Homo sapiens: one gene and its partners. The protein of the gene in region 1 purifies or fractionates together with the protein of each later gene. This does not show direct contact. Each region holds a gene or a part of one and is shown on either strand. Other genes may lie near its edges. The genes, in order: MAS1, TMEM11, PKP3 and DUSP14.

The links.
Region 2: the proteins of MAS1 (region 1) and TMEM11 purify together in Homo sapiens (affinity purification with mass spectrometry; 2 studies listed by BioGRID and IntAct, with this or other methods). This does not show direct contact.
Region 3: the proteins of MAS1 (region 1) and PKP3 purify together in Homo sapiens (affinity purification with mass spectrometry; 2 studies listed by BioGRID and IntAct, with this or other methods). This does not show direct contact.
Region 4: the proteins of MAS1 (region 1) and DUSP14 purify together in Homo sapiens (affinity purification with mass spectrometry; 2 studies listed by BioGRID and IntAct, with this or other methods). This does not show direct contact.

The regions. Positions count from the first base shown.
Region 1 is NC_000006.12:159,886,212-159,893,998, reverse strand, and holds the start of MAS1 (proto-oncogene Mas), read right to left. Parts: upstream 3,012-7,787; 5' UTR 2,866-3,011; exon of another isoform or gene 2,816-2,865; intron 1-2,815. UniProt on the Homo sapiens protein: Receptor for angiotensin 1-7. Acts specifically as a functional antagonist of AGTR1 (angiotensin-2 type 1 receptor), although it up-regulates AGTR1 receptor levels.
Region 2 is NC_000017.11:21,204,155-21,211,174, forward strand, and holds part of TMEM11 (transmembrane protein 11, mitochondrial), read right to left. Parts: exon of another isoform or gene 6,782-7,020; intron 1-6,781. UniProt on the Homo sapiens protein: Plays a role in mitochondrial morphogenesis.
Region 3 is NC_000011.10:397,206-404,225, reverse strand, and holds part of PKP3 (plakophilin-3), read right to left. Parts: coding exon 6,781-7,020; intron 6,688-6,780; coding exon 6,564-6,687; intron 5,235-6,563; coding exon 5,030-5,234; intron 4,260-5,029; coding exon 4,085-4,259; intron 3,893-4,084; coding exon 3,775-3,892; intron 3,692-3,774; coding exon 3,521-3,691; intron 1,149-3,520; coding exon 963-1,148; intron 609-962; coding exon 455-608; intron 284-454; coding exon 91-283; intron 1-90. UniProt on the Homo sapiens protein: A component of desmosome cell-cell junctions which are required for positive regulation of cellular adhesion. Required for the localization of DSG2, DSP and PKP2 to mature desmosome junctions.
Region 4 is NC_000017.11:37,485,202-37,492,891, forward strand, and holds the start of DUSP14 (dual specificity protein phosphatase 14), read left to right. Parts: upstream 1-4,689; 5' UTR 4,690-4,757; intron 4,758-6,331; exon of another isoform or gene 6,332-6,426; intron 6,427-7,690. UniProt on the Homo sapiens protein: Involved in the inactivation of MAP kinases. Dephosphorylates ERK, JNK and p38 MAP-kinases. Plays a negative role in TCR signaling by dephosphorylating MAP3K7 adapter TAB1 leading to its inactivation.

The DNA of each region.
Region 1 (7,787 bases):
AGCAATCCAACCTTCCCCGCTGGTCCACACTTCCTCCAATATGCCTAATAGCCTTCCAACACAAAAAACTGGACACTTTACCATAATCTTGTATGTCCCCTGCCCTAGTGCCTAGAATCAGCCATTTCTCCAAGGAGCCCTGGTTCCTTTCAGTAAATAATTATATTTAGAAGCCAAGATCTGGGTGTAAAATGTGCTCATTGCATGGAGGCTGTCGCTGCTCCCAGCCCCTCTCAGTGGCAGGGCTAAGGAATATATGTACATAGATAACATTTATGTATAGTCATACATACACACACCTATGGCTGTATTTCTATGTCTTTTTATATCTTTATAAAATATATACATATAATCATAAATTGACACCAATATCTCCAGTTTTGACCCACCACCAGTGAATTCATTTGAGTTTTCTCCCTCTCCATATTTGTAACTCCCTTCTCTGAGAAACCTGGCTCCCTTGGCCCTCTATGCATTTACTCATTTGATCAACCCACCTATGAATGGTTGCCTATGTCTGCCACTGCTCTTCCCCTGCCCCTGCACAGATGCCCTCCTCACTTTGTTGGGCCCTTTTACTTCCTGTTGGACCAGTGCTCCCCCTGCCCCCTACCCTGAGACACAGACCTCACACTGCAGGAGCTCCAACACCCAGCACCAGTTCCCTGTACCCCCCATGCAGATATCCTGCCCTGCCCAGCACTGACATCCCCTGCCATGTCACCACTGCCACTGCCCTCACCCCGGCGTGGCTGCCCCCATGGGGATGATCCTTGCCTATTCAGGCTCCAGCACCTCACACAAGACACCATAAGCCAGGGTGACCATGGTGGAAAGTAGGACTTAACACCCACCACCTTCCTGCAAAACTCAAAGAATTGTGGGCAGTATCGCATCTGAATGCAGAAGAGACTTTTGAGAAGAGGGGTTTTGACATTGATCAAAGTACAGTGCAGAGGCCACAGCCTATTCTGCTTGTGCCTACGGCTGCTTGGCCTGGGAGCTGCACTTTCAGTCAAACTGACCATGAGAGGCAAGTCCTCCATCAAGCAGATTAACCCCACTGGGTCTCAACTGCTTCACATGCTGGCATTTTAATGTAGTTTGAAAGGCTGGGGTATAAGAAATGCTAGAGATTGAACAGCACTTTGCCAATATGAGTCTCATGGAAATGCCAAACTGAGATAATGAATCAACAAGCAGGGAAAACAAGCATGGTGGTTTCCATTGATGTGTAAGGATGTGGGCTTTGCAGAGCCTGTGTCCTGCCAGGTCCACCTGAGATTGCTGGCTGCAATTACCTCTCAATGAAAGTGAGAGGAACAGATGGGTGGTGGAGCTGATAGAAAAAACAAGGAGACTCAGAGTCAGCAGAGAGTTCTAAATGCCATACATTTATGCTGCTCAAGTGTTCTCTAGAGACCTCAGAAGCAAACAACCCCTTCCACATTCCCATTCAGTTGAGCACAGTCCTTCCATGGCCCCAGATACCCAGCCTAGGACATCACTCTTAGAAGAAAGAAAGAGGGGGCTGGGGAGAAAGGCAGGGAGAAAAAAGGAAAGAGAGAAAAGCCAATAAAACTCAGGCTGGGGGAGTGGGCCATCTGAAAGCGCCTGTTGTTCCCAGGCAACTTAAAAGACAGCCTGACCCTAGGCTGGATTTCTAGGTGTGCAGATCCAGAGAAAAGGGCAAATTCTTCCCTGTGTGTGTGTGCAGTCACCTGGACAAACAGAAACCCATTTGTGAGATGGAATTTCCATGGCAGGCAAGGGCTCCGATGGGAATGTACAGGGCAGGACCATCTGTCCTGGTATTAAATGCATCATTCCCGTCTTCCCCACACTAGGGCCATCTGTACGCAGAAGCAGAGACTTCTTGCTCCCTTTCCAAACATACCACAGGATCAATTTAGAGCCCTGGTCTAAAAGGGGGGAAGGTGATTTTGTCCCCTAAGGGATGTTTGGCATGCCTGAAGATATTTTTGGTTGTCACAATGGAGAGGAGTGTGCTACTGGTATCTAGTTGGTAGAGGCCAGAGATGCTGCTAAACATCCTATAATATACAAGACAGCCCACACGGCAAAGAATTACCCAGCCCAAAATGCCAGTAGTGCCGAGGCCGTGGCACTCTGCTAGAGGCCAGCTTCTTACCACCTTTTTACTGCTGCACCCATAGCAATCTAACAACACACTATACATTCTCTCACCAAATTACTCCTAAGTATCCTGGCTGGGAAGTGTTGCTAAGACGCTCATACCAAAGATCAAGACTGGGCAGGAGATTCCTTTTAACAGACATCTTGTCACCAAAGGAATGCATACGGCTTCATAAGCAACAGAAGCTAATACTGATGCCAGTGCCCACTAAGGAAAAATGAAGAAAAATCAATACAGCTTGCCCCTGTGATGCCAAAGAGCTGATAGCCAAGTGATTTCTCCAGAGGAATCAAATTCAGTAACAACTCTTTCAAACCTCAACTTCTTTATCATTCATAAGCTTTCATTAAGCAGCCTTGAAAACCTCCAAGTCCACCATTCAAACTGTGAATTGATCCTAAGATTCTTTCCCCTGCAACGAGTTAAAAAAGAAAACGCTACTGCGAAGTTTCAACCCTGAAGTTGAAAAACAATGTCTGGGAACAGTTAACTCAGCAAAGAAGTAAATTTTCCAAAACAAAGGCAGGAGGAAAGAGAAGTTTTTGCCAACACACACCAACGGCAAACATCTAACACACCGAAAAAAATAAAAGAAAGAAAAACCAGCACAGAAAAGAGTTATCCAAGAAATAGCTTTTTAAAGAGAGAAAATCTTACTCTGGTTGTCAAGGACAGCTAAGCAATGAAAAACTGGGACGCAGACTCACTGGTGTCATTTGCTCAGGAAGGGTCAGACGTGGCCAACAGGTTGGCTGCCCCTTCACATCTGGGGCATCAATGCCCAGCCAGCCTGCAGGGTCTCCGGTCCCAACATCTCGAAGGATGGCTGCAGCCTCTCATCTCTGAAGGAATCAGAGCTGCTCTCCCACTGCTGAAAATATTTGAGATGTGCCAAGCAGATGGTCCCACGCTTATCAGCAGAAGCTTCCAATGGCATCATTCAGTGACACACTCAAGTGAAAATCTTCACGCCAATCCAGAGCGGGGTGTGAGCTGGTGATAATGCAAGGCAGTGGATCACCTTGAACCACTAAGGCCAGCCAGGGCTAAAGAGAAAGATGACGTGGAGAAATGCCACATGGAAGGGCAAAACCGCATGTGTAGTAGAAAGACAGAACCATCTCAAATTCCCAGCTCAGTTTCTAATAAGTTATGTGACCTCTGCCAAGCTCTCTAAGACTTGGTTTTCTCATCTGTAAAATGGAGCTAATAATATTAACTCAAAACCTAGTAATGATGAGATGAGTCTATGTATAGACCCAGAGAGACATACGGGAGACACATGGCTAGATAGTTAAGGATTTGTTCCCTTCTCCAACCCAGTTTCGGAGAGTATCATGCTCAGTGTAGTATATAAGACCCGTAGGATGCTATGAAAAGCAAGCAAGCCAAGGAGTGTGTTCAGGGGTGAAGGCAGGGGTCTGCACCATTGGCCATGCCCAGACTGCGTCCCAGCCTGGTCCGGGGGCTCCTCCTGGGAGTAGCTGTTTCTGTTAGATGCCAACTCTCACCCGTGCAGTCAGGAACATGAGAGCAAATTCCTTTTCCCCGATCCCTGTTCTGCATTTTTTGTGTTTTTGTTGTTGTTGTTGTTTGGTTAGGTTTTTTGTTTTTCTACCTTTTAAAAACCAAAAATGGCCAATATGTTACCCATTTTTCAAATAACTCAATGTGAAGCCCCAAAGGCTGAGAATTCTGGATCTCTTGGATCTCAGGTAGCCAAGTCTGAGATCCCAAGCCTGAAGACCCACCCCTCACTCAGGGTAGCATTTTCTCTTGTTTAAAGGGATTCCTTCATAGATATTGTGCCAAAGTATTAAGAACCTCGGGGACCAACTATATCAAAAGGGGTAAGAAGGCAGTTTCAGACTCTGTGGGAAAGCAGACATAGGAACCCACAGATGAAGTTCCCCTCCGACTGTTTTCGTAAGCAGGAAGACCATAGTCCCAGGGCAGAGCCAAACTACTCTTGTGGGAAGCCTGACCAGCAGCTCGGCCCTCCCAGTGGGAAGAAGAAAGGGGAGAGAAGAGAGCTTCCCCTGAAGCCAGCAGGCATCTACTGGGTAGGCAGTGCTGAGCAGCAAATCAACAGACCAGGTGAACTCGGTCTTGAAGTTGGAAAGGTGTTCTCATTACCTGGTTCTGATGCTCCAAGGAAGGAGAAGTTCAGCCTCCTGAAGAACTTTAGTTTCCCAGAGGATGGTCAGAAACTAAAAAGGAAACAGGCACCATCTAAAGCAGACTGCAAGGCAGAAAAGAAGGAGCACGGGTGGGAAAGGATCAGACCCACGGAAGAAAACATGATTAGGGAAAAATAAGAGGCTGCCCAGGAAGCTTCCAATCCCAGCAGGGGAGGAATTGATCCCGAAGGAAATGAGGGATGAAGGAGATGGGATACGACAGAGGGATCCTCTCTGCTCCACATTCGCTGCTTCTCAGATCAGGGGCTGCCCAGATGTTATGAACATTTCACCCTGTCCCCATGGGTGCTGTGAAACCCTGCGCAGAGTGACCAACTAGAAGGAGGACTCCAACGTCATTATGTAAGTCAACAGAACAGAGGTCCTCACCAATTTGCTTTTTCCAGTGCCTAACAGAAGTCTGTCCACACGGGCAGAGGACAACAAGCTGCCCAATTTGGAAATTGATAATGGTCCCAAGGTGAATGAAGAGCAAGCCGCCAGGAAGCCAGGGTGGCCCGATGGCTTCTAGGTAGGGAGAGAGTCTCCAAAGGGGTTGGTGGCCGGCCGGGAGAGTCAGAAAGAGGTGGCTCTCTTTGCCCCCAGCTTGAGTGGGTGGCGGAAGGCCCCAGTTGTTTTGTGACTAATTGGCACCACTAACAAAGCAGGAACTATCACAGATGGAGCTGGAGTCGCATTTTTGGTAGATAATGATTTATCCTTAGAGAAAATACAGCAACTCACTGTAAAAATAAAACTGCTTGCATTTAAGCCACAAATAGGTTGGCTATTTCTGTGCTTGGTTTGTCTTTGTGAGTAATCATTCTCCCCTTCAGAGGTGGGCAGAGTTTGAGGGGAAGGAGGTGTAGCAAGAGCGGGTAACAAAGCAACTGAACCTGGGGAAGAGGAGGGTCTGGAGCTCCAATTTCCGGCGGAAGTTCTAGCATCCACCTCCAAGTCACACCTTCCAAAGTTCCCTAGAGAAACAACATCCCTCTTTCTGCCATCAAACAACAGAGAACCATAATGAAGGGGGCCTGGTGGAGGGCCTTATGGGAGCAGGGAAGAAGGAAGCTTATTTACCCACGGCCACGCAGCAGACCCATAAGTGGCAGTACGCACAAGTGGTAGGTCCGTTTAAGTAGGGTACAGTGGTAGAATCCCTACGTAGACCATAAGTGGGAGAGCCCGTAGGCACCCCAGTAAGTGGCAGAATTCCTTTCTTCCATCAGTGCTTTACCCTAAAGCTCCAAACCCTCTCCGTGCCTCTTCACTCAGCGCTAAACCCAAGGAAGTCTAGAGAATTCAAGTCACATCCTAAGATGTGCTCCTTATCTGGAAGGAACTCTTCTACGCCCTCGACGCTGAGCCTATATTCTGGGGAGATAACCATTAAGTGCCTCACAAAAGCCCAGCACTCCCCTCCGTGTTAGAAAGATGGAGAGTCAGGAGGGCAGGGGGCTGGGCTGCACCGACGGAGGGAACGGTCAGTGCCTGAGTGCTCACTTTCACAGAAGACGGTTCCAGAATAAGAAGTGGAAACACACGGAAGGTCCACAGAATGGCAGGCAACTGGCTTAGGACACATTGTCTCGGTTCACCATTCAGGAGCAGAACAACTTCAGGTATGCTAGAAATTTAGACTTGCAAACTTGACCGGAGGGACGAGTGATTATCCCATCTGTTTGACTGACAGTCTCAGAGTGGAACTGGTCTGCCCTCTGCCCTCTGGAGCTGCAAAAGAGGCTTCAGACCTCATTGACCAGATAAAAGCCCAAGATAAAACCCTGAGAACAGAACTCTCCCAGGCTGATCGGATCCCCATCAGCCTCAGGGAATCTTCTCCAGGCTTCTGCTAGCCAACCCTGCCCTGGAATTGGTTGGGTCTGTCCCCAGTAATAATCTTTACGCTCAGCATACATTTCTTAAACATCAGATCTGAAAGAGAAATGACATTTTCTCCCCGACGTGCTCGGTTTCTTCCAGCTAGTCAGGTCCACATGGGGGAGCATAGTGAGAGTACTACAAAGGGCAGAAACTATATAGCTATGAAAACGGGGAAGCAAACCCACCAGACACAGTGCAAGTAGTCCTCCAAGATGCACCCTGGGAAGGGCCCAAACAGAGCACAGCTGCAGATAAGAATTCAGCATGTGGGAGGCTTTGCTTCCAGCCCCCAGGGCCCCCCCAGCCTCCCCTCAATCATAGGAATCTGCCCAAAAGGAGACTTCTCATCTGGCACAAGTGCCTTTGCGGAGCAGTGAGGAGGATGTGAAGTGACCAGAGTCGGGCATCCCTAATCCAGGATAGCTCTTCCACTGAGGGGCGGGGCGAGGCTCAGGGAGCTGCTTCCCTCCTGCGGGAGAGCCTGGGATGGTGTCCGCTGCCCCAGAGATCATCGCAGTGGACAAACTAGACCTCACTAGTTCCAAAAGGAGAACTCCCAACTAATATAGCTCATATAAATAAGAAAATAAATAAATGCCTCTCTGAGTCCCCCAGAATCACCAGATATCATATCTACAGGGCTGGCTAAAGTTTGCAGCAGGAGAAAATAATTAGAAAATAAACCGAGCATGCTGTGAGGCAGCCCGGGCCAACATAATAAAGATGGGGAGAAGGCAGGGGTGGCACCGGGTGCCAGGGCAGGGTGGGGAAGGAGGGAAGAGGAGAGGAGCACACTCCATCCCCGGGGGGAGATCGGGGTCTGCCTGAAGAGGCTCACACGCTCTGACGATTTGGGAAAATACCTTTACCCCAACTAATTTTCCTCCCTTCCTCTCCCCTCTTTCCCTGGGAATCTTTGTTAAAAGGGCCCCTGAGGAAAACCAGTGCCAGAGCCCTTTGCTCAGGACGGATGATCTTGCTCACAGGGACATCCCTAGAGAAAGTTCGCATTGAGTCACAGGTGAAAATGTACGAGCACTTCGTGGATGACTCGCTCGATCCGACGTGAGAGCTCATCTCCGCTTCAGGTGTGTGTACTCCTGTCCGTCCCTCCTCCAGTTCAGCACCATCTGGGTTAATAGAGCTATACAGGAAGTCCTCAAAATTCCTTTTTTTTTTTTTTTTTTTTTTTTTGCCCCCAGGAGTCACAAGGACATTTCTTAAGTGCTTAATATTTTATCCCCATTTTACAGATGAGGAAAGTGAGGCTTGCAGAGTTTAAGTAACTTGCCCTATCTCCCTTGTCAGAGCAAGGAGAGAGCGACACCAGAGTGCACCATCCCCACCTATACCTAGGACGTAAAAGCTGTAAAGTATAAACTCATTTTCATTCTCCTCTTCTTTTTTTAATCTCACTTTTCTCTTTTTTCTAAATCCAGAACACCATACTAGAAAGTTTTTTCTTGAAAAACTTTGGAAATAATTGTGGAGTGGGAGATGTTCAAAAGTATGTGCTCATAATAAATTCACAGCAAAAGGGACTTCATGACATTCACGGCACT
Region 2 (7,020 bases), on another chromosome or scaffold:
CAGGTGCAGTGGCTCATGCCTGTAATCCCAGCACTTTGGGAGGCCAAGGCAGGCGGATCACCTGAGATCAGGAGTTCGAGACCAGCCTGGCTAACACGGTGAAACCCTGTCTCTGCTACAAATACAAAAATTAGCTGGGTTTGGTGGCACGTGCCTGTAATCCCAGCTACTTGGGAGCCTGAGGCAGAAGAATTGCTTGAACGCAGGAGGCGGAGGTTGCAGTGAGCTGAGATCATGCCATTGCACTCCAGCGTGGGCAACAAGTAAAACTCCGTCTCAATAAAAAAAAAAAAAAAAAAAAAAAAGAGAAAAAGGTAGCAGCAGTAACAGCAAAGTCTCCAACTGAAAGCAAGTTCAGGGGAAAAGGCAGGGTTCAGAAGAGTGTTTACAGTATGCTATACGTAGTGTATTTTTAAAAGTCTCTATTTGCTTTTATATGCACAGAACACTTCTGAAAGGATACACAAAGACCTGATTTTTATGACTGGTCACTAGGGAGGGAACTGAGGGGCTCAGGAAAGAAAAGGAAGGGAGGCTCTTTCTAGTAAATGACTTTTGATCCTTTTGAATCTGGCATGATCTCTGGTACTTAAAGATCACTGTCGGAAGTGGGTCTTAACATATGGAAGAAGAAAAGTAAAAGGATCAGTGTCATGATCCTAAACACATCATGCCAGCACTGAGGAAGCTTTGGATTCTCTGAGCCTTTAGTGCTGGGAGCAGGGGTCAGCCCGTTCCAGCACCTCAGGGGGACTGCTGCAGACACTGAATGGGACCGCTCTCTGCCGCCTCAGGATAGCTTGCAGGCACTCATAAAGTGGGCATCTTGAACTTCCTCCCTCAGCCTTCAACCAGAGTCAGCCTTCAGGCCCTCATCTCTCCACTTTTGAGCCCAACTCAATCAGCTCTCGCAGTCAGCAAAGGAATCCCCTGGCAACACTAGCATTCCAGTTAAAAGGCGGCCACAGTGAAAACTCAGCAGGGCAACTCCACGGCCCCTCTGGGATGTGGGCAGCCTGTGCCTGTCCCAGCAGCCACAGTCTGGAGGCGTCTCCCCAAAAGGCAAGAGCCGCACAAGAAGGTTCAGAGCAGAACTGTTCGGTGAGAGCAAAAGATGACAGGAGCGGGGAGAGCAGAATCGCACCTCCTCCATTAGTGACATGAATCAGTTCCAGTGGCCTGAGCCAGGGATACAACTCTCACACATTCTAAGGCGGCAGAGCTCAGGGACGTGCCACTGAAAGCCAACTATAAGGACAGCAAGGGTGCTGTGGTGCACTTGGGGCACAGGGTCTCCGCTGCAGGAGGAGGCAGGCCAGGGTAACGCTAGTTCTCTATCGCGCTGGGTGGGGAGCCCACACAACTATCACTTTGCCTTTTTTAAAGTGTGGTAAAATACACGTAAAATATACCACCGTAAGCACTTTTAAGTGTACAGTTCAGAGGCACTAAGCACATGCACACTGATGTACCAACCATCACCACCATCCACCTCCAGGATTCCTTTACCTTCCCAAACTGAAACTCTACCCATGAAATGATCCCCCCATTCCCCACCAACCCCAAGCCCCTGCAAACTACCATTCTACTTTCTACCCCAATGAATCTGACTATACAAGTACTTCATACAAGTTGGATCATATATAGTATATGCCCTTTTGTGTCTGGCTTATTCCACAGAGCATAACGAGTCTTCAAGGTTCATCCATATTGTAGCATGTATCCGAATTTTCTTCCTTTTTAAGGCTCAGTAATGTTCCACCGTATGCATAAACCACATTTTGTTAATCCATTCATCTGTGATGGACACTTCGGTTTCCACCACTGGCTATTGTGAATAATGCTGCTATGAACATGGGTGCACAAACATCTCTTTGAGTCCCTGCTTTTTTTGGGGGGGGGGTATATATACCCAGAAGTGGAACTGCTGGATCATATAGCAGTTCAATTTTTTAGTTTTTTTGAGGAATCTCTATACTGTTTTCCAGAGCAGCTGCACCATTGTACATTCCCACCAGCAGCGCACAGGGGTTCCCATTTCTCCATATCCTCACCAACACTTGTTATTTTCCGTTTTCTTTTCTTTTGAGGCAGTCTCGCTCCATTGCCCAGGCTGGAGCGCAATGGCGCTATCTCGACTCACTGCAACCTCCGCCTCCCGGGCTTAAGCGAGTCTCCTGCCTCAGCCTCCCAAATAGCTAGGACTACAGACATGTGCTGCCACGCCCAGCTAATTTTTGTATTTTTAGTAGAGACAGGGTTTTCACCATGGTGGCCAGGCTGGTCTCGAACTCCTAAGTGATCTGCCAGCCTCAGCTTCCCAAAGCACTGGGATTACAAGTAAGAGCCATTGTACCTGGTCTCATTTTCTTTATTTTTATTTGTTTATTTATTTTGTGGAGACGGAGTTTCACTCTTGTCACCCAGACTGCAGTGCAGTGGCACAATCTCGGAGCACTGCAACCTCCACCTCCTGGGTTCAAGCAATTCTCTTGCCTCAGCCTCCCAAGCAGCTGGGATTACAGGCACGTGCCACAACGCCCAGCTAACTTTGTATTTTTAGTAGAGACAGAGTTTCTCTATGTTGGCCAGGCTAGTCTCGAACTCCTGATCTCAGGTGATCCCAAAATGCTGGAATTACAGGCATGAGCCACCATGCCTGGCCTGATTTGTATTTTTTAATGGCAGCTTTACTGAGATAGAATTCACAGCTTTACTGAGATAGAATTCACAGAGCAACTCCCCCATCGGAGGTGAACGATGAAGTGGCTTTCCCAAAGTTGTGCAACCAATAGCACAACTGATCCTGGTGCATTTTCATCATCTCAGAAAGAAACCCTGTACCAATTAGTGGTCCCTTCACATCTCCCCAGCCCTCCACAACCACCAGTCGGCTTCCCAACTCTCTGGATATGCCAATTCTGGGTATTTCATTTAAATGGAATCCTGTAACGTGGTCTTCAACAACTGGCTTCTTTCATTTTGCATTATGTTTTTAAGGGCCATCATGCTGTGGCATGTTTATTACTTTTCACATATTGTAAACATAACTTTTGATGTGTTTAACATATAACTTTAAAAAATCTAAGATAAGGCTGGGCATGGTGGCTCACGCCTGTAATCCCAGCACTTTGGGAGGCTGAGGTGGGCAGATCACCTGAGGTCAGGACTTCAAGACCAGGCTGGCCAATGTGGTGAAACTGTGTCCCTACTAAAAATACAAAAATTAGCTGGGCGTGGTGGTGCATGCCTGTGGTCCCAGCTACTTGAGACTGAGGCAGGAGAATCGCTTGAACCCCGGAGGCAGAAGCTGCAGTAAACCGAGACTGCACCACTGCATTCCAGCCTGGGTGACAAAGTGAGAGTCCGTCTCAATAATATAATTTTAAAAACCCCTAAGGCAAGATATATAAGACAAAGTATCAAAGGTGCTATACATGAAAATAGATCAGGCTAGGCGCGGTGGCTCACGCCTGTAATCCCAGCACTTTGGGAGGCCGAGGCGGGCGGATTACCTAAGGTCAGGAGTTTCAGACCAGCCTGGCCAACATGGTGAAACCCCGTCTCTACTAAAAATACAAAAATTAGCCAGGTGTGGTGACAGGCGCCTGTAATCCCAGCTACTCAGGAGGCTGAGGCAGGAGAATCGCTTGAACCTAGGAGGTAGAGGTTGCAGTGAGCCAAGATCACACCACTGCACTCCAGCCAGGGGGACAAGAGCGAGACATTGTCTCAAAAGAAACAAGAAAATAGATCAACAGTGGTTTTCTTTGGATGGTGGCCTAATAGGTGACTTGTCAATTTCTTCATGCTTTTCTATATTTTTTAAAAAAAAGTGTTTCTTTTTTTTTTTTTTGAGACGGAGTCTCGCTCTGTCGCCCAGGCTCAAGTGCAGTGGCGTGATCTTGGCTCACTGCAAGCTCCGCCTCCTGGGTTCACGCCATTCTCCTGCCTCAGCCTCCAGAGTAGCTGGGACTACAGGCAATCGCCACCACGCCCGGCTAATTTTTTGTATTTTTAGTAGAGACGGGGTTTCACTGTGTTAGCGAGGATGGTCTCAATCTCCTGACCTCGTGATCCGCCCACCTCGGCCTCCCAAAGTGTTGGGATTACAGGCATGAGCCACTGCGCCCGGCCAAAGTGTTTCTTTTATAACAGGAAAAATAATTATAAACTTATTCTTAAAAAGAAAAATTCTGTTCAACCCTATATCCCTTGAGGTAAAGGGACCAGATACCCGTGGGAGGGCCTCCTTCCACTGCCAAGAAGAGCGGGAGGTGGCTCACTTCCTGCTCCAGAACCTTCTCGGTGTCCATGAAAGGCAGAAGTCTGGACGCGGGCAGCTTCTCATGGCTGAGGTGTCATGCTGGTGTGTACCTGTAGTCCTGCCCAAAAAGAGGAGGGCAGTTCCAGCTCCGTTTCCCTTGAGCAAACACTGGCTAAGCTGCCAGGCCAGCCACCAATCACCTTCCCAGTTCTGAGAGACCCAGCAGAGGCAAATCTGAGTGGAAGCATCCACATTAGGCCCCTTCTTGGAGTGGGGCCCGGGCTCACAGGCAGGCCTGAAGCTCCATGAGGGCAGAGGCTGCATTTTCATCGTAGTTTCCCCAGCACTGGGCCTGAATGTAACAGGTTCCCAAAAGACACAGGTTGGAGGGACATTTGTAATGATTACAGACATGAGCCACAGGAGTCACAGGAGGAGAAAAACAATTATGGTTATTAAGAGAACTGGTACCAGAAAAGTCAACCCATCCGTCAGGCTGCTTTTCACTTAGTGAAAGGGTCACTTGATCACCTATGATACAGGAGGTGCTGGGCTGGACCTCCACCCGCTTCTGCCTAATTAAGCCCTGCTTCTTTGGGACCCACAGAAAGCAGAGGACTGAAGCAGTGAAAGCCCGTGCCCCAGACTCAAAGGCACGGGCATGCGGCCCCATGGCCTGAGGACGGCTCCCACAGGCCAAGGAACTTTCACAGGACACCCAGCCCTTTCGTCTGCTTCAGAGGACACTTTCCTATTCTGCGCACTGGTAACTCAGCAGCCCTTCTATCTGGGGAGCAGGAACACGGCGCACCAAGTGTGGGAGTCGAGAGGGTGGATTCAAGTTCCCTCTCGGCTGCCTACTGGCTTTGTGTCCTAGGGCAAAACACCCGGCCCCTCTGAGCCAGTTTCCCATGTTGTCAAACGGGGCCAGAGGCCCTGGCTCTCCCAGAGGACTGCAGTGAAGATGGGAACAGTCGCCAAGCACTGCCCCTCTGCCTAAGACACATGTGGCTGTTGAAATTTAAATTAATTAAAATTAGACATCTTAAAAAATTCAGTTCCTGGCCGGGCACAGTGGCTCACGCCTGTAATCCCAGCACTTTGGGAGGCCAGGGCGGGTGGATTCCTTGAGCCCACAAATTTTAAGACCAGCCTAGACAACATGGTGAAAACTCTGCCTCTACAAAAAATACAAAAATGAGCTGGGCGTGGTGGTACATGCCTGTGGTCCCAGCTACTCGGGAGGCTGGGGTGGGAGAATGGTTTGAGCCAGGGAGACGGAGGTTGCAGAGATCCGAGATCATACCACTGCACTCCAGCCTGGGTGACAGAGCCAGACCTGTCTCATAAAATAAATAAATAAATGAAACCTCAGTTCCTCAGAGCCACACGTGGCTAATGGCTGCCCTAATGGACTGCAGGGACACGCCAGGAGTCTGTCATGCCAGAAACTCCTACTGGACAGCCCTGCTCTGAAGAACTGTTATGACTACTACATGGCTGTCAGCTTTTCCTGAGAACTGTGCCCATAAAGTGGCTGCTGGCACCAGGGCGGAACACCGTGGCAGTCAGGAGGTTCCCGGGTGTGCTCGGTCATGGAGTGCTGCCCAACTCCACCCCCCGCACCTCGCTCATTGAAGAACAGGTGCACACCGACAAGCCGGGGCAGAGGAGCCACCTCCCCACCTCCGTGGACCCAGGCGCAGCCCTCCCCTCTTCAGAAAGGGGAGCCTTCCCTGGAACATGACCTAAAGGACTGAACCACTGAGACACAAATTAATGCACTTGGAATCCAGGCTGCTTGAGTGAACCAAGGAAAACAGAAATTCTTGAAAACTTGAAGGCACATCAATACTGAAGAGGATGAACCCCATCCTTACCTACGAATCCAACTTCTGCGGCCAGAACATGTGGCTTTGCCTTTGTTAAAGAGCTGAGCAGAATCCCACAACCAGTGGCTAAACCCCCACACACTTGGGTGCAGATCCCGTATCTGCTCATCTCATCCCAGCCAGAAGGAAACAAAAACTCCCGCCACACACAAAAGCAAGCATGGAGTCTTTCAAGAGAGATTAAATACTCCCAAAGCCTGAGAGTCTAAAAGGGAAGGATCAGATCAGAAAGGGAAGCTGTCACCCCGGGACCATGACCCAACCTGCCCCCGGGGCCTGTGCTCCATCTGCTCACTGGATGAACGTGTAAGGGCCACCTGGGACCAGGCACACCTGAGTTCACAAAGAAGAGGACAGGTCCTGGGGAATAAAGCATGGCAAGGAAAGCCATGAAAGTCAGCCCAGGGAACTGGCTGCCTATAAAACGCTGGAGCAGATGGCCGCGCAAGCCAGGGGAGGGGCAGGCCACAACAAATAACTTCGCGCTAAACCTGAACTTTTAGCCCCGTGCATCTGGCCCTCTGCACACCCCAGGTTGCCTCATATCATGCTCAGAAGCAGATCAAGTACATCTTCACGTGATTATAAAAACAGGAACTCAAGAGCACACAGCTATACTCACATTCCAACAATCACGGAGGGCTCTGGGAGGTTCAGGGGCCCTGAGACAGTGAAGCCGAGCAGCCCAAGTAAGACAGGCAGGGCTGTCTGTGAGCTGGTCCGGGCTGGCACACGGTGGCAGAACACAGATACCTGCACTGTGCTTTCCTAGATGGGCAAGTGTGTCTCAAAGACGCCGACAGGACAAGTGGCAATCTGTTTGATGTGCTCGTTGCCAGTGTGCTGAATTTTGGACAAGAA
Region 3 (7,020 bases), on another chromosome or scaffold:
AGGGCAGTCAGGAGGGGACACACAGCCAGAAAGCAGGGTGGACTGGGAGGACCCCTGACCAGGCTGCTGCACGGCTGGGTCGGCCCCTACCTGTCCCGCTTCTTCTTGATGAAGATGAGCTTTCGGAGTCCGTCAAAATACAGCAGGTCTCGGGCAGCGATGGGGCTGGCCACCACCAGGTTGTTGAGCACAGCTATGATGTTGACCAGCACCTCGGCTGGGGGCGACTTCTCACCCACGCTGCCCGGCAGCTTCTCGATCAGGTGGCTCACCACCTTCGTGGCTGTGGGAGGCCGGGGGTCAGTCTGCACCCCTACTCCTGGCCACCTGGGCACCTGGGGTCCCCTGCCTCCCCCAGGGAGCTGGACTGGCCCCAGTGGTCTGAAGCCCACACTTAAAGACAAAATTGACATGTGGGTCCAGCAGGGCAGGGACGAGGGGCTGCCCGACTCACACATCTCGTCCTTGTTCCTAGCGTTCCGAGACAGGTTTCGGATGAGGCCAGTCAGTGAGCGCAGCTGGTGGTGGTCGGCGGTCCTGACACGGTCTAGCAGGGGGTTCAGAATACGCTCCTGCTCCAGGGCCAGGCGGCTCAGCACCCCCGCCCACTGTGGGGAGGGAGGGTGTGAGCCGTGACCCGGAGGCCTCAGACCCTCACCTGAGGGGGTCCTGCCACAATGGGGTCGCTGCATCCTCTCGCCACCCTCAGGGGGGCCTCTGCTTCTGCCTTTGCCCCCCAGCCGGGGGGAATCAGCCGCAGCCCGGATCAGGTGCCTCCCTTCAAACCCAGGGCAGGACTTCCATCCTCCCAAGGCCCAAGGCCTGCGCCACCGGGACGCTGACCTCCGAGGCTCCGCGGACCCTGGGCGTCCCCTTCCTCCTCCCCTCCCTCTCCCTCCTCTGTCCCCCCCTCAACCGCATGAACCCCTGGGACCCCCTCGGGTCTGGGTTGGGTGCCCCACCCTGCGGTCGCCTGCCGTGATGTTCTGCAGCGCCCCGGCGGCCGCCTCCGTCGTGTGCCGGTTGAGCTCGCAGCGCTGCAGCAGCCGGTTGTACAGCCCCACGATCTGGGGGCTCCACAGCCACTCGAGGCCCTTGGGGTCCTTGGACACCTCCGCGAAGGTGAGCGCATCGGCGGCGAGGGGCAGCTGCGCAGGGCGGGGAGGAGTCGGCGGGGTCGGGGTGAGCGGGTCGGGGTGAGCGGGTCGGGGTGAGCGGGTCGGGTGTGAGTGGGGCGGGGGTGAGCGGGGTCCGGGGTGAGCGGGGCGGGGGTGAGCGGGGCCGGGGGTCGGGGGTGAGCGGGGTCCGGGGTGAGCGGGGCGGGGGTGAGCGGGGTCCGGGGTGAGCGGGGTCGGGGTGAGCGGGTCCCGGGGTGAGCGGGGCGGGGGTGAGCGGGGCGGGGGTGAGCGGGGCCGGGGGTGAGCGGGGCCGGGGGTCGGGGGTGAGCGGGGTCGGGGTGAGCGGGGCCGGGGGTGAGCGGGGCCCGGGGTGAGCGGGGCAGGGGTGAGCGGGGCGGGGGTGAGCGGGGTCGGGGTGAGCGGGTCGGGGGTGAGCGGGGCCGGGGGTCGGGGGTGAGCGGGGTCGGGGTGAGCGGGTCGGGGGTGAGCGGGGCCGGGGGTCGGGGGTGAGCGGGGTCGGGGTGAGCGGGGCCGGGGGTGAGCGGGGCCGGGGGTCGGGGGTGAGCGGGGTCGGGGTGAGCGGGGCCGGGGTCAGTGGAGCCGGGGGTGAGCGGGGCCGGGGGTCGGGGGTGAGCGGGGTCCGGGGTGAGCGGGGCCGGGGTCAGTGGAGCCGGGGGTGAGCGGGGCCGGGGGTCGGGGGTGAGCGGGGTCCGGGGTGAGCGGGGCCGGGGTCAGTGGAGCCGGGGGTGAGCGGGGCCGGGGGTCGGGGGTGAGCGGGGCCGGGGGTCGGGGGTGAGCGGGGTCCGGGGTGAGCGGGGCCGGGGTCAGTGGAGCCGGGGGTGAGCGGGGCCGGGGGTCGGGGGTGAGCGGGGTCCGGGGTGAGCGGGGCCGGGGTCAGTGGAGCCGGGGGTGAGCGGGGCCGGGGGTCTGGGGTGAGCGGGGTCGGGGTGAGCGGGGCCGGGGTCAGTGGAGCCGGGGGTGAGCGGGGCCGGGGGTCGGGGGTGAGCGGGGTCCGGGGTGAGCGGGGCCGGGGTCAGTGGAGCCGGGGGTGAGCGGGGCCGGGGGTCGGGGGTGAGCGGGGTCCGGGGTGAGCGGGGCCGGGGTCAGTGGAGCCGGGGGTGAGCGGGGCCGGGGGTCGGGGGTGAGCGGGGCCGGGGGTCGGGGGTGAGCGGGGTCCGGGGTGAGCGGGGCCGGGGTCAGTGGAGCCGGGGGTGAGCGGGGCCGGGGGTCGGGGGTGAGCGGGGTCCGGGGTGAGCGGGGCCGGGGTCAGTGGAGCCGGGGGTGAGCGGGGCCGGGGGTCGGGGGTGAGCGGGGCCGGGGGTCGGGGGTGAGCGGGGCGGGGGTGAGCGGGGCGGGGGTGAGCGGGGTCGGGGGTGAGCGGGGTCGGGGGTGAGCGGGGCCGGGGGTGAGCGGGGCCGGGGGTGAGCGGGGCGGGGGTGAGCGGGGCGGGTGTGAGCGGGGCCGGGTGTGAGCGGGGCCGGGTGTGAGCGGGGCCGGGTGTGAGCGGGGCGGGTGTGAGCGGGGCCGGGTGTGAGCGGGGCCGGGGGTGAGCGGGCCGGGGGTGAGCGGGGCGGGTGTGAGCGGGGCGGGTGTGAACGGGGCCGGGGGTGAGCGGGGCCGGGGGTGAGCGGGGCGGGTGTGAGCGGGGCGGGTGTGAGCGGGGCGGGTGTGAGCGGGCCGGGTGTGAGCGGGGCCGGGTGTGAGCGGGGCGGGTGTGAGCGGGGCCGGGGGTGAGCGGGGCGGGTGTGAGCGGGGCCGGGTGTGAGCGGGGCCGGGTGTGAGCGGGCCGGGGGTGAGCGGGGCGGGTGTGAGCGGGCCGGGGGTGAGCGGGGCGGGTGTGAGCGGGGCGGGTGTGAACGGGGCCGGGTGTGAGCGGGGCCGGGGGTGAGCGGGGCGGGTGTGAGCGGGCCGGGTGTGAGCGGGGCCGGGTGTGAGCGGGGCCGGGTGTGAGCGGGGCAGGTGTGAGCGGGGCCGGGGGTGAGCGGGGCGGGTGTGAGCGGGGCCGGGTGTGAGCGGGGCCGGGTGTGAGCGGGCCGGGGGTGAGCGGGGCGGGGGTGAGCGGGGCCGGGTGTGAGCGGGGCGGGTGTGAGCGGGGTCCGGGGTGAGCGGGGTCCGGGGTGAGCGGGGCGGGGGTGAGCGGGGCGGGTGTGAGCGGGGCCGGGGGTGAGCGGGGCGGGGGTGAGCGGGGTCCGGGGTGAGCGGGGCGGGGGTGAGCGGGGCGGGGGTGAGCGGGGCGGGTGTGAGCGGGGTCGGGGGTGAGCGGGGCGGGGGTGAGCGGGGTCCGGGGTGAGCGGGGCGGGGTGAGCGGGGCGGGGGTGAGCGGGGCGGGGGTGAGCGGGGCCGGGGTCAGCGGGGCCGGGGTCGCAGCACCCACCCCACGCCCCGCTCAGGCTGGTGCCCACCTCGCGCAGCCGCCGGCTCTGCGGCGTGAAGCAGCCCACGACCTCTCCCGGCGGCGCCCCCGCCAGGTCCCTGCGGCCGCGACCCTCCAGCCGCTGCAGCGCGGACGGCGGCATCTCGTCGTAGAGGCGGTAGGACAGGTTCCGCAGGACGCACACCGCGTTCTCCACGCTCTGCGGGCGGGGGCGCGGGGCAGGGGCGCGGGTCAGAGCGGCGGCCCGGGGGCACGGCCCCTCCTCCACACCGCGCCCCTCACCTTGTCCTCGCATTTGCCCGCGTCCAGGGCGTGGTTGATAGAGGTGACCAGGGCGTCCACCAGCCCGTGGCACTCCCGCATCTTCTGGCGAGTGGCCTGAGAGGCTGAGCTGAGGTTCCTGGGGACCGAGGTGGATCAGAGCCCCCCAGGGACCCCGCATCCCGGGCCTTGCCCCAACCCATCGTGGGCCCTCGCACGCCCATCCCCAGCGCGAGGCGTGCGGTGTGTGGGCTGCGAACGCCAGGCCAGGCGGAGTCCCCACAGTGACCCGCGCCTGCAATCCCCACCCCGCTGCCCGAGGCTGGCGCACCTGAGGAAGCCGGTGGCGTTGTAGAAGATCTCTGCCTCCGAGGCGTTCTGCTGGATGAGGGGGGGACCCCCAGCCCCCGACAGGGGGCTCAACACCAGGTCTGTGAGCTGCTCCAGCGTGTCTCTGGCCAGGCGGTCCTTCAGGTGGTCGCTGGATGAAAGGTTCCACAGGATCCCTGGAGGACGGGGGAGGCTGCTATCAGCGTCTGCCCTCCAACCCCCTCCGCGTTTCTGGGGATGGTGTGAAGAGGTCCCGCCTCTCCCCAGGGGCTGGCCTGGTGTTCTGTGCCTCACCCACGAGCCCCACTGGGGAGACCCTGGGGTGGCATTTGAGGTGATAGAGCTGGGACCAAGCAAGAGGGGACAAGATGTGGGGGTGGGGTGGTGAGCAGGCCTGGCAGTGCAGGCGGCTCCAAGGAGACAAAACCACAGGACAGGGTGGCCGGGGGTCCAGGAAAGAGGCGGGCAGTGGAGGCCCAAGTAGAAACACGGCCGGCAAAAGGTACAAAGGGACGGAGGGGAACCGAATGAGGTGGAGGGGTCAGAACGGAGGAGAGAGGACAGGCAGAGGAGGGACAGGAGGAGGGGGACAGGCAGAAAAGGGGGACAGGTGGAGGGGGGGACAGGTGGGGGATAGGCAGAGGGGGCAGGTGGAGGAGGGGGGCCAGGTGGGGGGGACACAGAGGGAGGACAGGAGGAGTAGGGGACAGGCAGAGGGGGCAGGTGGAGGAGGGGGCAGGTGGAGGAGTGGGGCAGATGGCGGGCAGGTGGGGGGGTAAGGCAGAGGGGGGGAGGAGGAGTAGGGGGGCAGGTGGCAGAGGGGGCAGGTGGAGAAGGGGGGCAGATGGTGGGCAGGTGGAGGGGGGCAGGTGGGGAGGAAGGCAGGGGGGATAGGCAGAGGGGCGCAGGTGGAGGAAGGACAGGTGGAGGAGGGGACAGGCAGCACCTGTGACATTTTTGCGAAGCTCATCATCCTGCTCCCGCAGTGTCCGCAGCAGCTCGAAGATCCCGTTCTCCTCCACCAGGGCCAGCTTGTTGTCAGCGTTGTCGTAGATGAGGTTGCGCATGGCACCTGTGGCATGGCGCTGCACTTCCTGGTTGGCGTGGTTGAAGAGCTTCACCAGCCTAGGCACGGCCTGAAGGCTGCGGGCCTGCGGGCACAGGCATATGGGGGTGCACAGACGCATGTGGATGGATGCAGACTATGCACCTGTGTGCAGCTGTGTCCAGGTGCGTAGATGTAGATATGCAGGGGATGCAGCCGTATAGGGAGGTGACGGAGGTGTGTGCGGCGGTAGGGAGGTGACGGAGGTGTGTGCGGGGGTACGGAGGTGACGCAGGTGTGTGCGGGGGTACGGAGGTGACGGAGGTGTGTGCGGGGGTACGGAGGTGACGCAGGTGTGTGCGGGGGTAGGGAGGTGACGCAGGTGTGTGCGGGGGTACGGAGGTGACGCAGGTGTGTGCGGGGGTAGGGAGGTGACGCAGGTGTGTGCGGGGGTAGGGAGGTGACGCAGGTGTGTGCGGGGGTAGGGAGGTGACGCAGGTGTGTGCGGGGGTAGGGAGGTGACGCAGGTGTGTGCGGGGGTACGGAGGTGACGCAGGTGTGTGCGGGGGTACGGAGGTGATGCAGGTGTGTGCGGGGGTAGGGAGGTGACAGAGGTGTGTGCGGGGGTACGGAGGTGACGCAGGTGTGTGCGGGGGTAGGGAGGTGACGCAGGTGTGTGCGGGGGTACGGAGGTGACGCAGGTGTGTGCGGGGGTAGGGAGGTGACGCAGGTGTGTGCGGGGGTACGGAGGTGACGGAGGTGTGTGCAGGGGTACGGAGGTGACGCAGGTGTGTGCGGGGGTAGGGAGGTGACGCAGGTGTGTGCGGGTGTACGGAGGTGATGAGGTATATGTGGGGGTAGGGAGGTGACGCAGGTGTGTGCGGGGGTACGGAGGTGATGAGGTATATGTGGGGGTAGGGAGGTGACGCAGGTATGTGCGGGTGTACGGAGGTGATGAGGTATATGTGGGGGTAGGGAGGTGACACAGGTGTGTGCGGGGGTACGGAGGTGACGGAGGTGTGTGCGGGGGTACGGAGGTGACGCAGGTGTGTGCGGGGGTACGGAGGTGACGCAGGTGTGTGTGGGGGTATGGAGGTGATGCAGGTGTGTGCGGGGGTACGGAGGTGACGGAGGTGTGTGCGGGGGTATGGAGGTGATGAGGTATATGTGGGGGTACGGAGGTGACGCAGGTGTGTGCGGGTGTACGGAGGTGATGAGGTATATGTGGGGGTACGGAGGTGATGCAGGTGATACTGGTGTATCCAAATTGTATCCTTCTGCTCTTCCTCTGCTGAGGGGGCTCCAGACAGAGTGGGGTCTACCCAGTCAGCTTGGGGATCATGAGGGGTGCTCAGTGAGCAGAGGACAGTGGGAGGTGGTGGGGCCCACGAAGGAGGTCACCAGGGGGCAGCGAGTGGGTGGTCGGGGTGGTCACCTGCTTCTTGGCGGCTGCATCGCTGTAGCACTTGTGCTGGATGTAGGCCGCTCCCAGCACCTGCAGGTTGGGGTCTGAAGCCATGAGGTACTTGACTGCTGAGGGCAGGTCAATGTCATCAAAACTGCGGAGCCAGGGGTCAGGGGTCAGGCTAACTTTGGGTTCAGGCTGGGCCCGTGGTAGAAGCCCCCTCCCTGAGCCGGGCCCAGCCGCTCACCCGCTGCTGAGTCTCTGCAGGGTTCGGTGGCTACCGTAGCTGTTGAACCCATGCACGTCCGGCAGGTGGCCCGAGTCAGCCAGGCTGAGGCTGAGGCTGCGCACAGATGGCGCTCGAGCCACTGGCTCCAGGACGGCCCCCGGCACTGCCCCGCCTACCCCGCGGCTCCGGTGGCTGCTCTGGAATCGCTGCAGGGTCCGCACGGCAGGGGCACGGATGGTCCGGCTCGGGGAAACCTCA
Region 4 (7,690 bases), on another chromosome or scaffold:
TTATGTCTAAAGTGTGGTTGGTAATACCTACCTGACTGGGTTGATGAAGATTAAATGAGCCGGGTGTGGTGGCTTACGCCTGTAATCCCAGCACTTTGGGAGTCCAAGGCGGGTGAATCGCCTGAGCTCAGGAGTTTGTTTGTTTTTTTGTTTTTTTGTTATTGAGACGGAGTCTTGCTCTGTCGCCCAGGCTGGAGTGCAGTGGCGCGATGTCTGCTCACTGCAAGCTCCGCCTCCCGGGTTAACGCCATTCTCCTACCTCAGCCTCCTGAATAGCTGGGACTACAGGCGCCCGCCACCACGCCCGGCTTTTTTTTTTTTTTTTTTTGTATTTTTAGTAGAGACGGGGTTTCATGTTAGCCAGGATGGTCTCAATATCCTGACCTCGTGATCCGCCCGCCTCGGCCTCCCAAAGTGCTGGGATTACAGGCGTAAGCCACCGCGCCCGGCCTGAGCTCAGGAGTTTGAGACCACCCTGGGCAACATGGTGAAACCCTGTCTCTACTAAAATACAAAAAATTAGCTGGGCTTGGTGGCGCACGCCTGTGGTCCTAGCTACTCGCACCACAGCACTCCAACTTGGGCTACAGAGTGAGACTCTGTCTCAAAAAAACAAAACAAAAACAACAAAAGATTAAATGTGTTAAGGTATATAACACACCTGGTGCCTCCCTTCCTTTTCTTTTCCCACTGAGCCTTTGACATTTAGTTTCACTGCGGTCAGGTATGAGCAAGTACATGATTTTCCTGTACCACCCAATTCACATCATGCAAAAGTCTCACAGAGAGGGACATGAAGATCTGCAAGAACAAATGTTAAAACAGACAGATGTGCATTTTACAAGGATGTTGTTTATCTTGAAATTCTCATCACTGCATCATTGCTACTGCCCAAGGGTTGAATTAAGGGCAAAACATTTCAGAGACAGATTTGAAATTACCTAATTATCCTAGACATGTTGTAATGTTCCCTTTTATAATGCCTGGCTCAAAAAGCTTGATGTCAGGTTACAGAACTGTATGCATTCTTTGATTGTAATTGTGTTAACAATAGTAAAAAATCTTGCATACAATCAAGACCAGAAAGAAATCCAGATGCTAATTGTTGTTTTGTTAAGTAATAAAATGGTGGTAAGCAATGCTTTTTCTCTTTTTGCTTTTTTTTCTTTTTCTTATCTGTAATGTGACAATTCTTTATTACTTGGAAAGTACATTTTATGAGAACTGTGAAAACTCGGAAAGTAGAAGTTCAAAGTATTTTACATTTAATAACATCTAGCTAATCCTTATGATATCTAGATAAGGTGCTACTTTACATCTTATGAAATAGCACAAGCCTTAGGCAAACTTCTGTAGTAGAAGAAATGTGTTCTGAGACTTCTGAGACTTCTATCTTGCTAGTTTTTAAGATATCTTTTCTCCCAGAAACCTGGTGTCCAGTGTCCCTCTCAAATCTGCCAAAGGACAGTAGCTTAAAGATTTACTTATCTCAGGGGAGTTGCATTTTTATAGCCATCAATGGCATATAATTTGGAATTAGAGGCACAGGCAAGCAGGCCTTCCGAATCTCTGTGAGCCACAAGACCCGATGGCACCCTGAAATCAAACTTCTGTAGACTGGGAGCCTTGTTGACCGCTGTTCCCCAATTCTGACAGATCAAAGCTGTTGCTAATTTGTTAACCAGAGGCAGTGATACAAATGGAAGATGCAACTATTCATTCTGAGGGACGCATAAAAGTCTGATTAATCTAAGGAGCAGTCATTGCCCAAGCAGTTAAGGAGAATATTTTTGGAAAGGCAGACATCAGAAGCTAAGCAGAGTACAAATTTCCACCCTCTACTTACTGTATTAATCATATCAGCTCTCACTCTTCGTAGATGCTGCCCTGCTCGAAAGCACTGGTTATTTAGCTGGGAGTCAGGAGAACCCAAACCCTCCCTGGGCATAGACAAATTGTAATTTTATAGCAGACAGCCTCTAAAATGTTTCTACATCCACAACAGTTGACACTGCCAGGCGCAGTGGCTCATGCCTCTAATCCCAGCACTATGGGAGGCTGAGGTGGGAGGATTGTTTGAGCTTAGGAGTTCGAGACCAGGCTGGGCAACATATTATTTAAAGAGACTAGGTCTCTTTAGTAATAACAAGGCCAGGTGCGGTGGCTCACGTCTATAACCTCAGGGGGCATCACCTGAGGTCGGGAGTTCAAGACCAGCCTGACCAACGTAGAGAAACCCTGTCTCTACTAAAAACACAAAATTAGCCAGGCGTGGTGGTGCGTGCCTGTAATCCCAGCTACTCGGGAGGCTGAGGCAGGAGAATCACTTGAACCCGGGAGGCGGAGGTTGCGCTGGGCCGAGATCGTGCCATTGCACTCCAGCCCAGGCAACAAGAGCGAAACTCCGTCCCCCCCAAAATAATAAAAACTAATTAGCCAGGCGTGGTGGCGTGCCTGTAGTCCCAGCTACTTGGGAAGCTGAAGTGGGAGGACCACCTGAGCCCGGGAAGTGGAGGCTTCAGTGAGCCATGATTGCACCACTGCACTCCATCCTGAAGCCTATCTTAAAAAAAAAAGAAGAAAAAGTGACACCTATAAAAAAACTCACATACTTATAGTCCAGAAATGTGCTGTCCAGTAAGGTAGCCACTAGCCACATGTGGCTATCTAAATTTACTAAAATAAAATTTTAAATTCACTTCCTTAGTTACACTAGCCATATTTCGTGTTCAGTAGCAACATGAGGCTAGTGGCTACTGTACTGGAGAGTGGAGATACAGAACATGTCCATCATCACACAAAGTTCTACTGGACAGTGCTGGTCCAGAAGAGAATAACTTCAAATTGCATTTTTGGTACAGGCATGTATAAGCCCGCACTTCCACATTCTGTAAAGGCATAAACCGCCTCCCTACCCCAGGGCATGTCTGTACAGTCATTAAATGGTCTGACTCCAGCACTTCTTTCTACTTAATCTCTAAATCTCTAAATCTTGACACGCACATCGCACACAACACAAACTCTATTTTAGCCCACCTCCCTCTTCACTGACTCTTCATGGTAGGTTTAGTTCCCATAATCCATGAAAATGCCTAGCTCCTTGTCACTAGAGCTTGTTTTGGAAACCTGCCTACAGTGTAACAAGCTGGAATGTGAAGAGGGATGCATCTATTTGTGTTGCTGAGTCATTGAATTGACTGAAGCTTCAAGGACTAGGGGGTGCTGAGCAGAAATGAAAACACACAATCCTTTCTGTTAGAGATTTGCTCTTTTCGTATTGGCATGTAAACAAGTAAGTCACTAAGTGAACTGACGTCACAATTTAGTTTTAGGAAGATGCTTTTCCCAGGCACGATTTGAACTCAGTGGTTTCCTGAATCTAGCAAAGTATGCTGCTTTGTTTTCTCTTAGATTAATTTTGCCTAATTTTAAAGCTTTGATTCTCTTTTTACGAAGACGAAAATAAATCTCTCTAGTCTGGGCCTTTTTCGTTTCCCAGGATTATGATTAAAATTATCACTAACTTTTAGATAGTCCAGCACGCACCGGATGACTCTGAAGCCGGTTGGGCAGTGGAGATCGGGAAGAACATGAAAAAGCTTCAAAGCTTTTGGTTGAGGACATCGGGAGATGTAAACCCCAAACGCGGGTTTTACTTCTCCCCTCCACCCCTCCCCGCAAACCCATGCCTACTCGTTTTGACTGCTCAGCAATTCTGAGGCCAACCATTTGCAACGGCGAGGAGCAGGGGCTGGTGAGTCAAGGACTGGGCATGGAGTCAGGACTCTTAGGTGCCTTGACTCACGGCAGAGCCTTGAGGAAGTCGCTTTGCCTCCCACGTGTCTCCCTTCACCTGCCAGAGGCGGAGGGGAGGCGGGGCTGTGCTGGAAAACGTCCGTTTCGCACCGACTTATGTTACAGATGGGCAGACCTGAATTTTAAAAGACCCTCAGAGTCACACAGCAAATGAGCCCTCAAATGCCCGTGTCCCGCCTGCGCTCCGGAGAACCCCTGCCCTGCCTCGGGGACTCGGGAGGTGGGTGTGGGCTCCGAGACTCGGACGGCACCTTGGCGTGGCGAGAGCAGGTGGAGATGCGCACGGAGGTTGCATGTTCACCTCCGGGTCTCGGGCGCCACGGCTGCCCGTACCTGTTCCAGCAAGCGTCAGCCAGGAACTGCCGCGCTACTGATTTTCCCTTCGCTCTTGGGTCCCAACCCCCGGGCTCTCCGGGCTAGGGAGGCGGTGGGGTGGGGTCGAGGCCGTCCCGAGCCACCCGCGGCGGCTTCACACCTGTATCGGATTTGCTTTCTCGCCTTTAATCCTCTCCAATCCCGAAAGCACCCCAGCAGAGCGCCCCCGCAGCCCGCCTCGAGCCCGGCTCATACGCAGACGCTGACTGGGGAAGCGAGGGGTCGCCGGTGTGTGAGGCAGGGTAAGAGACCAGGGGACCTGCACGGAGGAGCGCTCTAGGGGAGGCTGCTGCCTCGGGAGCTAGGGCGCGCCCGGACCACACCGCACGGCGCAGAAGCCCAGCGCGCACGCGCGCCGCCTGCCGCCCCGCGCGTCCCCCCGCCCCGCGTCGCGTCCCCCCACCTCGGGAGAGGGCGGCCAGGCGCAGGGAGCGTGCGCGCGGCCCGCCCCGGGCGCGGGCGGAGGGAGGAGGAGGCGGCGCGCGCGGCGCCCAGCCCGCAGAAGCCGGTGGCCGCGCAGGAGGACGGAGCCCTAACCGCAACCCGCTCCGCGCCGCGCCGCGCCGGTAGGGGACCCGCAGGCCCGGGGGTGGGGGTTGTGGGGAAGGTGTTGGGGTGGGGCGGGAGGGCGGGACTTCGCGCTTCGGGTCCCTGGGCGCAGGGGGACCCAGAGGCCCGCGCGACCCCGCCTCTGGAAACTTTGTGCCGGCGCCCCCACCTGCTCCCTGGCGGTCCTTGACTCTTCGGGGCGGCCCGCGGAGGAGAGGCCCGAGACCTTCCGCAGCGCACCCTCGCCGGCCCTGAGCGTGCGCCCCCTGCCGCTCCCCCGCCGCGCCGCGCCGCCCCCGCGACCCTGTCCCTGTGCCCCGGGGCTCCAGCAGCCTCGGCCGCGCCTCCTCCGTCGCCTTCCGACCCCGCTGAGGCCGCCTACTCTCGCTGGCATCCACCCGCTCTGGAGCGCGCCGCCGCTTTTTGCATCTCCCCGAGGTTTCTGGTGCATGGATAGAAGCAACTTGACTTTCAGCGATGCCAAGTGTCCAACTTGAGTCTTTCTCTGCGGTGGTAGATGGGTGTGCGCGGTGCTAACATCTGTCTTTTTATTTCTCCTAAGTACCCTTGCTCCGGAGCGAAGTTGAGTTGTTGTTTGTAAAGAGGGGGTGCGTGCTGTGGCCGCCTTAAGTGGATTGTATAACTGTATTTTATTTAGGTGGATGTTGCCAGTGGTACCAGCCAGTGTTATGGTAACTGGGCATCCCAGAGGCTAGGGAAGGAGGAGCGACTTACAAATGCAGTTTTACCATGCAGAGATTTTTTTTTTTTAAAACCACCTTGTACTTTCTATCCAGCAGGACCTCCGGACATTTAGTGTGTGTTAACTCGTTAGCTGTTCATTATCGTTTTATAAGAGAGGGGGGTGGAGAGCGTTACCATCCCGTTTTACAGATGTAAAAACGGAGGCGAAGAGCAAACTCCGGGTATCCTTAGTAACCTTAAAAGAATAGGGACCAAGAGATTTAACCCAGAGTCTCCTGGAATTCCTAGTCCCTAAGGCCACTCAGAAGTATGATGGAATGTTGGACCGTCCTCCCTGACATTCTACAGATCACTTAAGAGTCAGAGAGGCCGAGGCCAGCCGGCAGCTCCATGCCTGAGACTCAGCTCTGCCACAAAGTTAAGTAACACTGGACAAGTCACAGTTTCTCTCCGCTCATTTCCTTCCTGCTCTCTAAAACCAGGGGAACAAAGGTGCTGTATTCTTTGCAGAGTTGTGCGTGTGTCTGGAAGCTCCACTCCCTTGAGCTGCGATTTGGTTATTGTTAGTTGTTGTGGACTCATAAAGGCCCCCAGTCTTGGTTCCCTTGAGAAATGCAGGGAAGGAGGCACCCCCACAGTGAACGCCTCTTCTTCGCCAGAGACGCCTGAGAATTCACATCAGGGACACTTCACATCAGGGACAGGCCGGGGCAGAGACCCTGACCTGAGGGAGGGACGAGGGTTGCCACGAGGAGGTAGGAAGGAGCCCTGCACAGGAGGCTTGACACATGGGCCCTATTCCTGCCTCCAGCTCTGACTCATCTTCTGACGCTTGGGGGAGGAGAGGTAGTTGCTTGGTATTTTTGGCTTTCCACCATAAAACTGGAGACAGTTTCCTTCATTCCAAGTCGTTTTAATGTCACTGTTGAACGTGTGTGTCCTGAGTTCTCATCTGAAAGCTTTCATATCGGTTGACTGCAGGTATGAATTCTGTAATAATAATTAATAGAATGGCATAAATGTATATTCATATCATAAAAGACTAGCCAAGTATGTAAGTCCAGGAAATCCTTTAATACTTTAACATTTTTAAAAAGTGGGCTTTAGGGAGGGCTATGTTTGATGGGTTCCTTTGCAATTGGGATTTTAAGGCAAAATGGATTAAAAATGCTTTTCCCAAAATCACAAGAAATACATTAACCATTCTCTGTGAGATTTAAACTTTACTAATAAGGTTAAAGCTTTCTTTTGAACCTCTTCCTCAAAAGTAACTGCCGAGTGCATCTTGATCGGTTTGTGTATATCTTTTTAGACTTTTCTAAGCATTTTTATAAATGTCCGTTTGCACAAAGTGGTTTTTTAACCGAAATTAATTATTTTAAAGTTGACTTGTCCTGTTTATAAAGATTTGGCTTCTGTCAAGAACAAGTAATGTGTTTAAGTACAACTGTTGGTAAAGTTTTAATAATCCTGATAGACGGTGTTACTTCCCAGGGCAAGGGGCAAATTACCCCTTTTAAACAACTTCAAAGTAGTAGAATCATTACGATCCTAGGTTTTACTCTTAGGTGCTGAATAAAACTTTCCTATTTAAAAAAAAAATCTAGGACTACTAGCCTATTGTCTTGTCTTTGCTTATAAAGAAACGTCAAAGGGAGTGGAAGACAGGGAGAGTTGCTAAAGCAACCAAGGCCTGGGTATAAACTTACAGAGCTAACATTTAAGATGGCTTTATTATTTATGAAAGCTTCACTTCACCTGGGTGAAGACAAAGGAAAGTGTTAATGTGGGCACCCTTCAAACCGGTAATTTCAGGAAATGGATGGGTTAAAACAAAATTCATGTCAGGATTCTGTGGATTTATATATTATACATTTACCGAGGACTTTTACCATGCTAAAGGTGCTGTGCCTGAATACAGAGGAAGAAGGCAAGTAAGGTCGGTCTCTGACCTTATGAAGCTGACAGGCAAATAGTGACATTCAGAGAGAGTTGGCCAGAATTGTTGTCATGGTTCTGAATTCCCAGAAATCAACATTAGATTTATTGAATTGTGAATTATGTAAAAAAGTGTCTAAAACAAATGGATAATTTGATGGATTATTTTAACGAAAACATAAGTGTAACTGTCTTGCAGGTCAAGAATCTGACTCCACACTCTCTCCCTCCCCCAGAGGTCCTAGCCAGAAACTACCCTGACTTTTATGGAAATCATTTCCTTCTTTTCTATAGTTTTTATCCCCTA